Homo sapiens: one gene and its partners. The protein of the gene in region 2 interacts with the protein of the main gene of each other region in a pairwise test. Each region holds a gene or a part of one and is shown on either strand. Other genes may lie near its edges. The genes, in order: EXOSC7, PRRC2B and DDX11.

Region 1 (3,646 bases), on a different chromosome or scaffold from region 2:
GACCTTTGGTGGGGTGATTGGTCACAAGCCTGTCTTTTGATGGGTTCTTTCACAAATAATCACTAACCTTCTTCCTCATAGCACCCCTTCTGTTGGGCTCTGGGGATAAAAGGATGAACAAAACTACAGAGTCCCAGCCTTTAGGAGTTCACAGTTCAACTGCAGAGGAGATAGACTCTAAACAAAAACAGAACTACATGACTTTTCTTTCTATGTGTGACTTCTCACCTTTCTTATTTGGGGCAGCCCAGTCGGCTTTATTCCATAACCTCAGGCCAAGGCCTCTCTAAAATGAGGACAGAAGGATATGCCACCTTCCAGTTAAATGTGCTCTAATTTTCCCTGCTAGATGAGCATACGTAAGTGCACTCAACACTTTCGCTCATGGGCAGAAGCTTGTCTGAGAGACTTTAGTCTTCATTATAAGTAATGTAAAACATGTAGTATTTCATGTCTGAGCATCAGATATACATTGATCATTACATACGAGAAGTAATTACACTAGTAAATGTGAACCTAGTAGCAGCCGCAACATCAGTAGCCACCGTTTTCTCCTTGTTTGGAGGCCAGGCATATGTTAGCAAAGATTAGAGTAACACTTGGAGTACAATTGGGAGCTATCTGGGGCAAAATAAAGGTGATCAGTCCCACCTTCAGGGCAGCCCCAACTGCCTGAAGTGCCTGTGAGAGGAGCCCACCCACAAGCCATGGCCTCTGAGTGTTGGTACCACAGCCCTGCCAACTGTGACCTTGTGTGCATGGGCCACGTAAGCACAGCTATGACAAGGCAGTGCCTGTAATTAGGGTGAAGGACTGTGTCAGTGAGTTGCAGTCACTGCATGGCTAGCCAGGAGAGAAGCCACATGTTATCTTTATTTTATAAACACACAGTCAGCATTTCTTAGAAATCAGTGTCCTTGACCACAGAATAGATTTAGGGAAAGAAAAAAAAAAATCGGTGTCCTGGCCGGGCGTGGTGGCTCATGCCTATACCCCAGCACTTTGGGAGGCTGAGGTAGGCGGATCACTTTTGGTCAGGAGTTCAAGACCAGCCTGGCCAACATGGTGAAACCCTAAAATACAAAAATTAGCTGGGGGTGGTGGCGCACACGTGTAATCCCAGCTATTCGGGAGGCTGAGGTGGGAGAATTACTTGAACCTGGGAGGCAGAGGTTGCAGTTAGCCAAGATTGCACCACTGCACTCCAGCCTGAGTGACAGAGCGAGACTCTGTCTCAAAAAAAAAAAAGCAGTGTCCTTTAACTGGGGTAATACCTAAAGTAATAAGTGATGCTTGGTTTTTTTTCCTTTTTCAATTCCTGTCTCCCTTAGCTTCTGGAATGTGGTGGAAATTTGTTTGATGCCATTTCCATTGCTGTAAAGGCTGCTCTCTTCAATACAAGGTAAGTCTTCCTAGAAACAGCTCTGCGAACCTGTGGAGAACCAGAGCAGACACTTGTAATGGAACACTGAGGAAATTTCTATTGTAGCTCATATGTGAAGATAACAGGGGGTTTTAACATTGAAAATGGTGACATCTAACGTTAAACTCCAGAAAAGATAGATTTCGTGAATTAAAACTACATATATACGTATATTCTGTATTTATTTTTTGTATTGTTATTTTTATAAATAGACACCTACCATTTAGAAAAATATTAGAAAACTACAGAGAAGCCAAGAAGAGTAGACACCACCTACAGGCCAACTATCCAAATACTATTACTGGGTGAACTCTATGGGGGCAAGGATTTTGCCTGTTTTGTACTTGCCTATATTCCTAGCACCATGAACAGTACCTGACACATAGTAAGTGCTTGCATATTGCTTGATTGTACACATGTGTGTTCTAAAAGCAGGGTAACAGGCTTCCCTTTGGTTTAAGAAGAGGAAATGGCTATTCCACATGGTTCAGCTTTCCAAACAGGTTGTGTAGAAGGGACAAGTTGCTATGCTTTTTTGGAGTTGACATTTATTCTGACTGATTGACCTTTCCCCCTTTTATGCTCCAAGTACTTTGAGGAAAATTTGCAGCATTTATGAGTAAATACGTGGGATAGGGTGTTCATCCTATGAGAGAGCCTACATTAAGGTAACAGAGGATCCTATTAAAAAACGAGGATTAGAAACTTCTAGGGATATAACCTAAGGACATAATTGAATAAATGAGCAAAGATGTTTATTCTAGGATGTTCATCACATCCTAGAATAAACATTACACTGCTTTGTAATGGTAAGAAACTGGAAACAACCTGAGTTTCACAATGGAGGGGATTGAAGTCCACACAGCAGCCTATTTAAAGGCATGTTAATATGGAAAATAGTTCACTAAATGCAGTCCCCTCATCCTGGTTTTTGTTTGTTGGTTTGTTGTATTTTACTTTGGTAGTTCTTATATGTAATGTGTCTGGAAATATGTACCCCCAAGTAATCACTGTAATTATTTTTCAGTGCTCATATTTTGGCCAACATAACATTTACCTGTTTTTTAGAGCTTTTCTATGATGAGTTTAGACTCCCTGTGTAATTTAGAGCAGACAAAAATTGCAGGCTGGAATATTTGCTGAGAATGAAAGCTGTAGAGTCCCCCACCCCTAGCTGTGCCACTAGGCTCCTTGTTGAGACTATTTGAAATGTGAGCCTGGCACTCTTGGCCACCGTGGGAGCTTGCGTGCCAGATCCCACAGCAGTAGCTGGTGCTCGGGCCCTGTTGGGGAAGGAAAGGAAGCTGTCATCTGATTTATCTTGAGCCTCAGAAATGACTCCCCATCTGCCAGCTGGTTCCTATAGGCACCCAGGCAAAAAGAGAGATTGGGAACCAGACAAGGCTGTTTAGCTGTGGGGGAGTTGCTGGCCAAACTGTATACCAGAAAGGTTAACCCAGCTGCTCAGGTAGGGGAGGACACCTGTCATGGGCACAGCCATAGTCTCATCCTCAGACCAAGAACAGCCCTGCAGGCAGCAAGGAATGGGGACTCTAAGGCATCAAGTCCCCCTGGTATGTGGAGAGACTATTGGCATATTCAGGGTCCTTTAGAAGGGTAAAGGCCACCTGAGGGTATTCTTTAGCCCTTCTGCCCAGGCTTGTTGTAGCCAAAGGGTTGGGAAATTGGGAGATACTGTGCGTGCGTGCGTGCGTGCGTGCGTGTGTGTGTGTATGTGTGTGTGTAAATGGTTGACAACTTGTTCAAATAGGATATTACTTAGTAGAACTTCCTCTGATGGGAAGGCTCCAAATGGGGAAGACCCTTACAGAACTCCTTGGCCCTTGTCAACATTCTCTGGCTGAAGCTCCCCTGATCTGATCTAGATGTTGCCTTGTGTATGGATGGCCAGCAGGGCTCAATCATGGGGGGTTTTGTTAGAGGAACTGGGAAAAGTACTAATGCTGTTTCCATTACAGTAGCTGGATGGACCACCTCTTCCTTCCTGGCTCCTCCAACCCAGCCTGGAGTGAATTGACTTTATAGGTTAAATGTGTTTTTCAGTACCCAGCTGAAGAAACAGAATGTTGCCAGCACCCCAGAAGCATCCCACACCTTCTGTACCCCCATGCAATTACACTCACTGATGATAACCAGCATCTTAAAAGAATAGATTACTTTTGTACTTGATATAAATGGTATCATATACTATGTTCTGTTTTG
Region 2 (3,646 bases):
AGGCCAGGCCTGGTGGCTCACGTCTGTAATCCCACCACTTTGGGAGGCTGAGGCAGGCAGATCACCAGGTCAGGAGATCGAGACCATCCTGGCTAACATGGTGAAACCCCGTCGCTCCTAAAAATACAACAACAACAAAAAATTAGCCGGGCGTGGTGGCGGGCACCTATAGTCCCAGCTATTCGGGAGGCTGAGGCAGGAGAATGGCGTGAACCCGGGAGGCAGAGCTTGGCAGTGAGTGGAGATCGCGCCACTGCACTCCAGCCTGGGCGACAGAGCAAGACTCCGTCTCCAAAAAAAAAAAAAAAAAAAAAGAAAGATATATTTTTTAATGTAAAAAAAGAGAAGCTACCAACTTTTAGAAATAGTATAAGTGAAAAGAAGCATGAGCATAGCGGAAATAACGACAGAGAATCCAGATTGGCAGGAGTGAGGGCTCTGCCCTGCTCACTCTCTCCTGTAATCCATGAGATGTTGAGAAACACGTTGGGTGAGGATGTGGAAAGTTGGGTAAGGCTGTCAGACCAGCTCTTCCACGTCAGAGCCGTTCACTGGGTGTCACGGGTAGGGGGCTGGGGTGGCGGGTGCAGGGGAGGCAGGGGAGTTGGATTTCTGCAAGCTGTGCCTGTGCTTGTTCTTTAAGAGCTCATAAACTCTCTAGACGGGTTGCTCTTTGATGCCCTGACTCTGTCTTCCTCCCCTGGCAGCTCTCCCTGTGCAGGCCCCAGCCAACGACTCCTGGAGGAAAGCTGTCACTGCCTTCAGCAGCACCGAGACTGGCTCTGCGGAGGTGAGTGTGGCCGCTGCCCACATGCTGCCCCTGGGATGAGTGTGTGAGTGTGTGCTCACCATCCACACGGCCAGCTTGCTGTGGCCCACCCAAGCCCCTGCCACAGCAGCTGAGCTTGGAATTAGGTTGTTTCCATGGGGCCAAGCTCATCAGTGGTTTTCCATCTTGATTTCTGGCCTGTGCATGGGGCGTGCATGAGCAGGAGAAAGAGAAAAGGGGTAACAAGGGAGGACCCAACGCTGGGTGGGAAGAGGGATTCAGGGCCTCCTCTGAACTGGTGTCAGCAGCCACGTAGTCTGGTTTGGGTCACAAGTGAGATGGGTTTGGCAGCCTCGGTCTGGGGCCCATAGAAGATCCTGTGGTCACGAGCTCTATCGGGGTTGGTGTGTTTGGCCACACGTAAGTTGTCAGGCATCCTCAGCAGGGCAGGATCAAGATCAGGACCAGACTTGGCAAGGGACAGGCAGCTGGGGTAGAAAAGTCTCTGTGCCACATGCAGTTTTACTCTCTGGATAATCGAGTTGGGAGTTTGAGGCTATAACCCATTTTGTGCTCTGCACAGCAGGGTTTTAAGAGCAGCCAGGGAGATAGTGGCGTTGACTTGAGTGCCGAGTCTCGGGAGTCGTCTGCGACCTCCTCGCAGCGCAGCTCCCCATATGGGACTCTGAAGCCAGAGGAGATGAGCGGGCCCGGCCTGGCGGAACCCAAGGCCGACAGCCACAAGGAGCAGGCTCCAAAGCCATCTGAGCAGAAGGTAACCTGGACGTTCCAGTCACAGTGGCCAGGGCCTGGGTGGAAGGGGCCATCGTCTCATCATCTTCCTCAATTCCTGGGACAGTAGAAGCTAGAGAGTGTGGTCATTCCAGTCTGTGTGTCTCCACCTCTCTGCTTTTTTATCAAGGATTCAGAACAAGGCTCTGGACAGAGCAAGGAGCACAGACCAGGACCCATCGGCAACGAGCGTTCTCTGAAAAACAGAAAGGGCTCGGAGGGGGCCGAGCGGCTGCAAGGGGCTGTCGTCCCGCCTGTTAACGGGGTGGAGATTCACGTGGACTCCGTGCTGCCTGTGCCACCCATTGAATTTGGAGTCAGTCCAAAAGTGAGGCTTTGATTTGTTTTCTTGCTTGCTTTTTTTACTTTTTATTTTGGTACTTGGAGAGGCTGGGGGCTCAGATGGGATTGTCTCCTAGAAGGAATAGAAGGATGGGAGCCAAGCAGTCTTCCAGCGGCTAGAGTGTTGGTGTGGAGTCCTGCACATGGCCAGTGCTCTGTTGAGTTGCTTTAAAGATTGCTTCACTGACACCAGACAGGCCAGTGATCTTCCCTGTTTCTGTCAGGCCACCCAAGGGACAGGGAGAAAGAAGTGAGGCTGGCGTCCTGTCTCCTGTGCCGTGGGGAAAATCTGGCCATCTCGCTCATATGTGGCTCCAGTGAATGCTGCTCAGTGGAGTTTTTGAGTCGGGGAAACTGCATCACGTTAATGTATGCCTCTGGGGAATGTAGGGCCAGGAGGATCTCAGTGGGCTGTGTGGCCTTTTTTATTTTTTCAGGACTCCGATTTCAGCTTGCCACCTGGTTCTGCCTCTGGTCCTACTGGGAGTCCAGTTGTTAAACTTCAGGATGCCTTGGCCAGTAATGTAAGTCCACACTTCCACTTTTGGCTCCACTCACTGCTTGGGGCTGGCAGGCCCTGGGTGAAGGAGACAGCACATGTATTTCAGGCTGACCTGGGCTGGCACGTGACTCAGTTGCTAGCAGCTCCATGTCCTTAAAAGGTGCTTAAATGTTCCTGCCCAGGTTTTGTGACCTTCCAGTGGGGATCATACAGTTCCTAAGGGCTGGTTTATTTGGCTCTCTTTGGTTCCATTGTCTCCTCTGTGCCAGGTGCGAGCCCAGACTCAGGCTGCCTTTTCTGTGGCCAGGGGTAAGGGGCACAGATTGAGTAGGAGAGCCCTCCTCAGGAGGCCCCATCTCACCATCCAAGGGTCCCTGCCGCCTGCAATCTAACTGTTGTGATCCAGAAGACCTGCTGGCGCTCTACCATGGGCTCAGGAGCTGGCAGTTGCATCTGTTGTGGCCACTCGGGGCTGCAGCTGAGGCTGTCGCAGTGACATCTGGTTCACTGCTCTGTCCTCACCACCTGCAGGGGTGGGTGCTAGTGCATATGCTGAATGAACGAGTATCATTTGGGCAGCGTTTCCCAGAGGATTCCAAGGAATGTGAGTGCTGTACAATATTCATAGGTGTTGAATGAAAACAATGTTTTGGAAGTGCTGGGCTCTACGAGGTTCTTTACTCGAGAGTCTGCGGTCTCTGTCACATGCAGATGGACACCGGGGATCTGCAGGAAGCGGGGGCACTGTTGCATTTCCAGCCTCTGTTACCAGAGCCCTCTTTTTCAGTTTGCTGAGGGGCACAGCCTTCCCTGTCTGGCCCAGGGCATCTCCAGGCCAGGTGGCAGGTGCCTTCTGAACCAGATGTTTGTGTGCGGGCTGCCAGTCCATATTTATACTGCCGGGACATGGCTCTCCCTGTCTGGAGGGCACTATGGAGTGTGGATATGGGGGTGGCTCTCTGCAGACTTGTGTGGAGGAAACTGATGGAGGCAGCCATCTCCAGGAGATCAGTCATGGTCCTGGCTGCCATCAGTTTCATCTGGGTGGTCTTGGGTACATGTGGCCAATACTGAAGATGCATTTGGACAATTCATAGACACGGAGCTGTAGGTGCTTTTGGGAAAAGCCATGGATGGGTTTGGGCAAGTCATAGATACATTTGGACGAGCCTTGAGTGTGTTCAGGAGAGCCATGGATGGGTTTGGGCAAAGCCATCTCTGCACCTGTTTGTGTTCCATGG
Region 3 (3,646 bases), on a different chromosome or scaffold from region 2:
TGTATTCATAAAACCTCCAGGCATCCTCTGAGGACGCCTCACACAGGAGAAAGCTGCTAGTTCCCTTTGGCTCTCTTGCCCTTTGGTTATATCTGCCCCTGCCGGGGGTAGGGATGTGGGGCTTGGGGGCATCTCCTGTGGTGTGCCTGGGGTGTGCAGCCCCTGATTGTCGTTGTGGTGCCCATCAGGACCCTGGACAGAAGAAGGGAGGACTCAGTGCCAGGGCAATAGGGAGGCCCCCTAGGGACGCTAGTGCTGTGACATGTGTCAGAAAGGCGCAGTCAGCAGCAGCGGCTGGGTGTGTTTGGTGGGAGGTGGCACCTACCACCCCGTGGTTCCCACCCAGGGGAGCCAAGTCCTCTTCCTTGGCTGTAGTCCTGCCGAGGGTCTCTCCTCAGTTTTGAGTCTCAAGGTGAAGACGCGGTTTGTGGGTGGCTGAGGGGTTGCTCCATGGGGGCTCCCTCCCTCCCTCCTTTCCTTCCTTAGATGGACGAGGTGGGTCGCATTCTCTGTAACCTGTGCGGTGTGGTTCCTGGAGGGGTGGTCTGTTTCTTCCCCTCCTACGAGTACCTGCGCCAGGTCCATGCCCACTGGGAGAAGGGTGGCCTGCTGGGCCGTCTGGCTGCCAGGAAGAAGGTGAGTGGCCTGTCGGCAGCCTTCCCACTTGTGAGGACAGTGCCACTGAGTCCTCCTGGGAGCTCTCGTGCTCATCGGGTCAGGACAGGCTTCTGGCTCCTCATCCCCACCGCTCCCAGTCCCTGACTACAGAGGATTTCCCCCAAAGTCCCTGGCTGTGAGGTTCTCCAGTCCCCTGGCCAGAAAACACAAGGCCACGAGCAGACTCGAGACCTGGCACCCTGAACCTGTCTCTGGGAAATGTCCTCTGTCTTTCTCAGATATTCCAGGAACCTAAGAGCGCACACCAGGTGGAGCAGGTGCTGCTGGCATATTCCAGGTGCATCCAGGTGCGGGCGTCATGCTGGGCTTGGGTCTGAGATCGTGTGGGGGTGGCAGCTGGAAACGTTGTGGGTGTCATCCAAGTTTTGGCTCAGCAACTCAGCGTCTGGGTTTCTCCTACAGGCCTGTGGCCAGGAGAGAGGCCAGGTGACAGGGGCCCTGCTCCTCTCTGTGGTTGGAGGAAAGATGAGTGAAGGGATCAACTTCTCTGACAACCTAGGCCGGTAAGTAGTGGTTCTGCTCGTCTCCTGGGCCGTGATACATGGCCGGCCCTCACTCCCAGCAGCTGGGCCCCTGCCTGCTCTCTGCTGCCATTAGAGCCCACAGCTGGGCTGCGACTGCTCAGACCAGCCAGCTGGAGGGAGGGGCTCAGCAGCTCTGGGTTTGGTCCTGGGAGAGCAGTTGGATTTTAGGCTACCCATTGCTGTATCAGGACCCAGTCAATTGGCCTAGACGGGATCTCTCAGCCGAACAAGCCCTCTCCAGGTGGTAGGTACAGAGTGGAGAGAGGCTGAGTTTTGATCACAGTCGGAGAGGCTGAGGGAAGGGGTAGAACGGAGCAGCTGGTGACGTGGGTGATGACCCGGGAGGTCCTGACGTCCACCTGCTGGGCTCTTGTCTCCCCCGCCCAGGTGTGTGGTGATGGTGGGCATGCCCTTCCCCAACATCAGGTCTGCAGAGCTGCAGGAGAAGATGGCCTACTTGGATCAAACCCTCGTGAGTGACCCCAGTGTCACAGAGGGTGACAGGAGAGTAGGCAGTGGGTGGGAGTGGCATCACCCCCAGGGCTGATACAGCCAGGCCTTCCCCGCTGCGCTGGCGTCTCCTGCCCCCTCCGGAAGCTTGGATGCCCCTCCACACCCTCTTGATCTTCCCTGTGATGTCACCTGGACCCCTGCTGCTGGCATTGGCCACGAAGCCTCCTGGTCTGGCTCCAAAGCCTGGCAGGGTCTTTTCCCAGGGGGAGCTGCAGGCAGGGAACAGTCCTGATGGGTCTTCCCCTTCACTCCCAGCCCAGAGCCCCCGGCCAGGCACCCCCAGGGAAGGCTCTGGTGGAGAACCTGTGCATGAAGGCCGTCAACCAGTCCATAGGTGAGCCTGGCTGCCTCCAGCTGGGTGGACAGATGGGGGCTGGAGAAAGGGAGAACAGGAAAGAGGGGTTGCCTGCCCTGTTTCCTATATAAGTCTGAGGAAGGGGAGGGGGTCGCCGTGGGAATGTGCTGTAGGGGGGAGGCAGGTGTTGCTCGGAGCCCCAGCCTCTGTTCCTATGCAGGCAGGGCCATCAGGCACCAGAAGGATTTTGCCAGCGTAGTGCTCCTGGACCAGCGATATGCCCGGCCCCCTGTCCTGGCCAAGCTGCCGGCCTGGATCCGAGCCCGTGTGGAGGTCAAAGCTACCTTTGGCCCCGCCATTGCTGCTGTGCAGAAGGTCAGTCCTACCTTTTTCTTTCTGAGAGCCTCCCCACCCCGAGATCACATTTCTCACTGCCTTCTGTCTGCCCAGTTTCACCGGGAGAAGTCGGCCTCTTCCTGATGGGCAACCACACCACTGCCTGGCGCCGTGCCCTTCCTTTGTCCTGCCCGCTGGAGACAGTGTTTGTCGTGGGCGTGGTCTGCGGGGATCCTGTTACAAAGGTGAAACCCAGGAGGAGAGTGTGGAGTCCAGAGTGCTGCCAGGACCCAGGCACAGGCGTTAGCTCCCGTAGGAGAAAATGGGGGAATCCTGAATGAACAGTGGGTCCTGGCTGTCCTTGGGGCGTTCCAGGGCAGCTCCCCTCCTGGAATAGAATCTTTCTTTCCATCCTGCATGGCTGAGAGCCAGGCTTCCTTCCTGGTCTCCGCAGGAGGCTGTGGCAGCTGTGGCATCCACTGTGGCATCTCCGTCCTGCCCACCTTCTTAAGAGGCGAGATGGAGCAGGCCCATCTGCCTCTGCCCTTTCTAGCCAAGGTTATAGCTGCCCTGGACTGCTCACTCTCTGGTCTCAATTTAAAATGATCCATGGCCACAGGGCTCCTGCCCAGGGGCTTGTCACCTTCCCCTCCTCCTTCCTGAGTCACTCCTTCAGTAGAAGGCCCTGCTCCCTATCCTGTCCCACAGCCCTGCCTGGATTTGTATCCTTGGCTTCGTGCCAGTTCCTCCAAGTCTATGGCACCTCCCTCCCTCTCAACCACTTGAGCAAACTCCAAGACACCTTCTACCCCAACACCAGCAATTATGCCAAGGGCCGTTAGGCTCTCAACATGACTATAGAGACCCCGTGTCATCACGGAGACCTTTGTTCCTGTGGGAAAATATCCCTCCCACCTGCAACAGCTGCCCCTGCTGACTGCGCCTGTCTTCTCCCTCTGACCCCAGAGAAAGGGGCTGTGGTCAGCTGGGATCTTCTGCCACCATCAGGGACAAACGGGGGCAGGAGGAAAGTCACTGATGCCCAGATGTTTGCATCCTGCACAGCTATAGGTCCTTAAATAAAAGTGTGCTGTTGGTTTCTGCTGAGTTTTTTATTGATATGTGCTGCTGTTTTCTCTGGAAGCCTCTTTAGGGAATCGAGGAGCGCACTGGTGCAGGGGCTGGGTGGAGCCATCCTCCGATGGAGCACAGGCAGACGGAAGCCCCCACCCCAGCTGCGTGGCCTCAAGCCAGCCTCCCGCTCCCCGAAGGTGGTCTCCACACAGACCTGGGACAGTTT

Evidence for each region.
Region 1: the proteins of PRRC2B (region 2) and EXOSC7 interact in a two-hybrid assay, tested with the Homo sapiens proteins (one large-scale study listed by BioGRID).
Region 3: the proteins of PRRC2B (region 2) and DDX11 interact in a two-hybrid assay, tested with the Homo sapiens proteins (one large-scale study listed by BioGRID).

What each region holds. Positions count from the first base shown.
Region 1 is NC_000003.12:45,000,207-45,003,852, forward strand, and holds part of EXOSC7 (exosome complex component RRP42), read left to right. Parts: intron 1-1,331; coding exon 1,332-1,402; intron 1,403-3,646. UniProt on the Homo sapiens protein: Non-catalytic component of the RNA exosome complex which has 3'->5' exoribonuclease activity and participates in a multitude of cellular RNA processing and degradation events.
Region 2 is NC_000009.12:131,481,019-131,484,664, forward strand, and holds part of PRRC2B (protein PRRC2B), read left to right. Parts: intron 1-707; coding exon 708-790; intron 791-1,352; coding exon 1,353-1,544; intron 1,545-1,691; coding exon 1,692-1,889; intron 1,890-2,340; coding exon 2,341-2,427; intron 2,428-3,646.
Region 3 is NC_000012.12:31,101,347-31,104,992, forward strand, and holds the end of DDX11 (ATP-dependent DNA helicase DDX11), read left to right. Parts: intron 1-486; coding exon 487-636; intron 637-896; coding exon 897-965; intron 966-1,080; coding exon 1,081-1,181; intron 1,182-1,589; coding exon 1,590-1,674; intron 1,675-1,970; coding exon 1,971-2,049; intron 2,050-2,230; coding exon 2,231-2,385; coding exon of another isoform or gene 2,386-2,460; coding exon 2,461-2,490; coding exon of another isoform or gene 2,491-2,687; 3' UTR 2,688-3,453; downstream 3,454-3,646. UniProt on the Homo sapiens protein: DNA-dependent ATPase and ATP-dependent DNA helicase that participates in various functions in genomic stability, including DNA replication, DNA repair and heterochromatin organization as well as in ribosomal RNA synthesis.